Regions from separate parts of the Homo sapiens genome. Here region 1 is linked to region 2. Evidence: fine-mapped expression QTL. A gene starts in region 2. The other region holds a variant in brackets. All regions are shown on one strand. Distances are between the middles of the regions.

Region 1 (2,913 bases), 160 kb before region 2:
AGAGTAATGTGCTCCGCTCCCCTCATTTATATGTTTGACCCTAACCTTTCCCAGATGTGCAACTGTTCTTCCTTCCAAAAAGGGGCTTTCAACACTGGGCATTGTGTGCTCTCTGAATCCAGCCCTGCAGCAAAAACAAAAGTCCAAGTTCCTGAGTTTTGGAACTGGACTTGTGAGTTGGAGTATCTCTGGACTGTTTGGTGTCCCCTCTGGAAGCTCGTATAATGGGGTTTCTGTGCTTATGTGCTTGTGATCTCATGCCTCGAGCTGCTCCTTAGTATCTGGCTGGCCGCCTCTCTTTGGCCACGAAGAGGTGGGAGTACGACAAGGCACAAACAAGGTCTTTTATGATCTGGTTCCAGCCTACTCCTCCACTCCTGCCTGAACTCCTCCCATTCCCTGGTTCGAGGCACAGATATGATTTGCCATTGTACTAAGACGTCTTGGTGACCCATGGTCCTGTGGCTTTCCCTACCTTGTTTAGGCTACTCTCTTACCCAATTCTCTCTCTTTGATTTGGTGGACACCAAGTCCTCATTCAGTTAGGAAGGTAGTGCAAACTTCCTCTATTCCTGGAAGTTTTTTCTAACTCCCTTCCCTGTCCCCTCCTAGTTTGAATTGGCTGCTTGCTTTGTAACTCTCCAGCGCTGCTTTGCAAGAATCTTCACCTTAACCTCTTCACTATTGGTGTGTTTACCTCTCTCTGCTTTATGTTTGAGTTAGTTGTTCATGTGTCTGTTTCTCTAACTCAGTTGTAAGCCTTTTAAGAGCAAGGACCAGATCTTGCCCATCTTTGAACCTCCAGCATTTAGTACTTAGCCTGGTATGTAACAGGTATTCAGTAAATATTTGTTGAATGAATTCATGAATATTGCCAAGGAAATGAGGATGATGATGTAACATAAGTTATGTACAGTGTCTTGATGGCCTTGGAAGGGTTAGTATTAACAAAACATCAAGACTTGTTACCTCTAATGAAGAACAGCATAGGAAAATAAACATTAAATTTATACAATAGGGACAATTACTGCTGCTATTACAGGTCCCTGTTACTTCCTAAGTACTTAACTGATATTATCTCATTTTCTTCTTACCACATCCCTTTTCCAAGTGGCATGTGGATTTTATAATTATTGTTTATATTATTTCAAGTTTCTTGACAACATGATTTTGTAGCCTGCAGTGGAGACGTGTTCCAAGACCTCTCAACCCTTTGGAAAGCCCTAAATCCTTTTGCTGCAAAGCAAGTATACTATCTATTACAAC[G/A]CAGCTAAACAAAGGATTATGGCTTCAAAAATCCCTCTGTGCTTTTTACATGAAAATCAAACTTCCCTTCCCCTGTGCACTTGGAGTTACCAGCCCTCCTTTCCCCAAATGTAAGACTTCTGATGTAAGGCCAGATTCATGGAGGGAGAGCAGAGGCCAACAGCTGGGTTTAATTAGTATGCTTTTGCCCTCGTATCTTGAAAAACCTATGCTCCACACTAGGCTTTCATTTGAGAGAAAGGGAACTCGAGTTGTAACAAAATCTCCAAATGCAGAAGAAATGAAGAGAGGGCTGAGGAAGCATTTGCACCAACTTGCCTTCCTATGATCTGACTTTGGTCTATCTACTCATTATATGGTCCTCTCTCCCCTCCTCCTCAAGGAATCTGACTCCAGTTGTACAGAACTCAAAGAAAGCAGAGGAAGTCTTGATGCTGTTGCTTTAAACCACCAGGAGGCAAATATCTCTTTTCTAGTGATGTAAAGATGATTTCAGGACTTATTGTAGTCAGAGGGCTAGAGGCTCCAAGGTATCTACTTACTACCATTTTCAATTAGTGGAGTTGGGATAGAGAAAAAAGGAGTGGATAAGAGGGAGAGAAAAAGAAAAGTCCACTTACCTGACCTCCCCCTGGAATCTGGTGATCTGACCATTGCCAGAAATGGTAATGTCTTCCTATAGTGAAAATTTTTCAGCTTCCCACTGAAAGATGTCTACAGATGTCCATAGCAATGTTCAAATTGTTGCCTCTCTTTATAGATAAGTAGACCTGCATGTTAGCAGAGTTAAGGGCTAAGTGGATTAGGCCCTTCAGAATTGTTCAGAATTCATAACTATGTAAGATAATTTATAAATTATGTAATTAATGCTAAAACCAGTCCTTAAATATTTTGGTTTCCTTTTTTTCTATGCAAGCCTCCTTAACAACTATGTTCACTGAAACAGGATAAAGTGGCTTTCTAGTGTTATGGGGATTTTCCCAAGGAAGCTGTGAATTTATGAAGCTGGGAGCTCTGTAGGAAATTAATATTTTGAATCAGGAACAAAAGATGTGTGTTTTTCCAGAGTTATGGTGGCTAGGAATGTGAAGATTACACTCTCCCTTGTAATTTCAAACTCTTTGTTATTTTCTTTAAATGTAATAATGTTGGACATAGAACTTTAGCTTATGAAAGCTTTAAAATCATAGGATAAGACTTCCATCCACTTAAACTTTGGTTGACTGATATTTCCAAGTAGATAAAGCTGAAAGAATGATGGGAAAAAGTAAAAATAATCCTCAGCCAAATCAGATAGAGGGACAAGAGGAGAGAAGGGAAAAGAGCAAAACACAAACCTAACACACCAAAAAGGAGGGAGGAAACCTGGGAAAGTGAAGCTATCCCGATTACTTCCCCAGTCAGGAAATTATTGCTTAGTTAATTTAATGGGTACAGGGAAGAGCGAAGTCAACACACTATGGTCCAGATGAGAGATTTAACTCCCACTTGCAAAAAAAAAAAAAAAAAAAAAAAAAAAAAAGAAACATTCCACTCCAATGACAGTGGATAGGGAAGAATAATAAAACTTAGTAGTGATGTTTTAGGGATTATGATCTACTGAATTACTGTTTCTAACAGACATGATGTGACTATATGCGAAGCATG
Region 2 (2,913 bases):
GTTTCAGAGAGTTTTTTTTCACAAAGGAAACAGGCTATTAAGGCAACTTCTCAAGAACAGGCCTTCCTGGATCCCTTTCCTAGCTGTTTTTAGACTTTAGAGATACCATAAAATATTTCCTAACATTATTCTTTCATTAACTGTAATAAAATAACTGAGTGTAAATCTCAGCATATTCAAGGATATATTTATTTTTCTCCTGAGTTTATTAGGCAACACACTTTTAAACACATACAATAAATACAATTTGAAGTGCGTGCTTTATATCTTGCATGATGTCGTTTGTGTTCTTATGCTTGTCTCCATTAGTCTATTGCCATATAGTAATAAAGCTTTATCAAATCAAACCTTTATAATGGATTCCTTGAAGATACTTGAAAATACTTCATAGCCAATAGTTTTTACACAATTGGTTTTTCAAGCAATGAATTTCCATTTAAATAAAATATGGATTTACAATACATAGAAAATTTACAAGGAGTTATAAAACAGTGGGAAAGTATGTCTAGCCTAAACTTTTGTGCATTTAGTCTAGGAAAATTTCACATCCCTCTTTCCACACCTATAAAGCCAAACAGAACCAGGACTGACTTGAGGAAAGCAATTATTTATCTCTGCTGTGTCTAACTAAGCAAGCTGCCAAATGTGATCATTTGCCTGATTGGAAAATCACATAAATTAAGACTTTGCCATCAACTTTCTTTCAAGTAAGGAAAGAAAAGCATTTCAATATAGTAATGCAAAACAAGTGGAAATTGTTATTGAACATTTACTTGGACGGGCACTGTGGAAAATTATTCCTTGTCCAACCACCTCCTCAGCTGTAACTGGTAGCACAATTCTTGACCCATTTTACAGATTAGGAAACATGAGTTTCCAGAGTTTATTGGCACTCACGTGGCTGTTACATCGTTTTGATGTTCAAACGACCTACTTTATTCAAAGTCAGGTAGTACAGTCTGCTGGTGGGAAATACAGTATTACTCAAGGGACTTCAAAGGAACAAGAAGATGTTTGAGTTGCACAGTGAGCTAAATTATGCAAGTTGCAGAAATCCTAGGTGGATAGTACGACACCTTTCAGATCAGTTTCTACCCTCAAGGGTGGCAACAACCTTGTAGATCCATTATGGATTAGGTTTCTAAACTGTTTTGGTGTTATGAACCCCTAGAGTCTTCTGGGGAATCCAATGGACCTCGTCTCAGAATAATGTTTTACAATGTATAGCAGAAAGAAGAGAAATTATATTGAAATACACTTCTGGCATTTGACCCCTTAGGATTTTTCCAGCATTTCTACTCTGCCCACCTCTCCTCTCATGTCTACCAAAGAGACTTTCTCTACTTTATTCAGAAAGGTAAATGAGAGACACTCAAACAGGTCTGTAGGTTATGGGAGTAGCAGGGAGTATGGGATAGGCTACTGAGGAGCTGTTTTTGAGGTGACATCACTGTCTCCCTTCCTTTTTCCCTTCCCTCTGGAAGCCTCCTTACTTCTCCAGCTCTTCCTTCCTTCCCCACATCAAGTCCAATTTTTCTCCTTTTACTTCTTGTCTATCCTCCTCACTCCTTGCTCAGCCCCGCCCGCTTTTCTAGGCCCGCCCCTCCAGGGCCCCACCCTCAGGCCGCTCCTCCAGTCTAGGCCCCGCCTTCTCCTCAGTTTCCTGCCAATGACGCTGGGGCAGCCGGGGCAGCCGGGGCAGCCCGGTCACCCCGCCCCCAGGCCCACACTAAGGGTGTCCGCGGCCTGCCCTCCAGGCGGAGGAGCCCGGACTGCGGAAGGATGGAGCTGGCCGCCGGAAGCTTCTCGGAGGAGCAGTTCTGGGAGGCCTGCGCCGAGCTCCAGCAGCCCGCTCTGGCCGGGGCCGACTGGCAGCTCCTAGTGGAGACCTCGGGCATCAGCATCTACCGGCTGCTGGACAAGGTAGCGGCCAACCCGCTGGAGGACCGCGGGGCCTAGAATGCGCCGGGGTCGACCTCCCCGCAGGGAGTGCGGGGCGGCAGTCGCGGAAGGGACAGGGGCGCGTCTTCTCCGGCTCAGGAAGGAGCTCCGCCCGGACCCTGTCTCAAGCTCTGGAGCTAGCGCAGGGGCGGTGCCTCCAAGTGACTGCCGTGCAGATCCAGGGGAGTTGGAAGGTCACAGGAGTTCAGCCTCAGGTCAGGCCCGACGGGGCATGTAGTTAGAAGTTAATGACAGTTGAAACGTGGGTCAGCTGGTTCCTAGGCCCGTGCACACGTCTGCAAGGGACGTTGATCCTCACTCTCCAATGCGTGTCAGTGGCATATGGGGGCTGGGGTGGGGGAGGGGCGGTATCTTAGGGCTTGGATATAGGAGGAAAAGAAACAGAACTTTTCAAGGACTGGATGTGCAGGGTGGTGTCAGGGGTTGCCGAGAAGGGCCCTACTGTTTTAGTGACTCGTTTCTTTTGGTTGTTGCCCCTTCCTTCCAAGTTGCTCTTAATAAGTTGAGTCCGAATCTTCAGGCAGGAGTAAAGATGTAGGAGGAATGGGATTGGTTGTTGAAGTCTTTGGAATCAGGTAGCCATCCAGGTGGAAGGCATTGCCCCTGAGGCCTGTCATCCAAGGCTTGTCATCAGTTGCTTTGTGTAATAGTCGCAGCATGGCAAGTAGGTTAAAAGTCGCCTGCAGGTAATGTGGGTGAAACTGAAGTTTCCTAATACAGGACCAGGATATTATAGTGTTAGAGTTAGGAGGATACCTCATGCTCACCTGGTTAAACCCCAGGTTTCATAGGTGAAAGCAACAGGCCTCAAGGGTGAAGTCACTCCTGAAATGGCCCAGATAAGTGAATAGCAGAGGTGGGATTGGAGGGTTCATGATCTTGTGAATGTCAAACATGTGGTTGCCTTTTTAGGCACTTGCATTTTTGTTTACATCAAATATAGTGTTTTTA

What was found. PIP is the estimated chance that this variant, and not a neighbour inherited with it, causes the effect.
Region 1: its variant is the best candidate, but not a certain one, in a credible set for the expression of PCTP in whole blood (TOPMed, PIP 0.88).

What each region holds. Positions count from the first base shown.
Region 1 is chr17:55,587,721-55,590,633 of GRCh38, forward strand. It overlaps LOC102724732 (a long non-coding RNA gene), which reads right to left and starts at 2,083. Exons shown (of 3, transcript XR_429997.4): 1 at 1,887-2,083. The variant G/A (reference allele first, on the strand shown) is at 1,267.
Region 2 is chr17:55,749,322-55,752,234 of GRCh38, forward strand. PCTP (phosphatidylcholine transfer protein) reads left to right here and starts at 1,730. Exons shown (of 6, transcript NM_021213.4): 1 at 1,730-1,923. The coding sequence starts at 1,783. RefSeq lists a silencer at 1,528-1,867.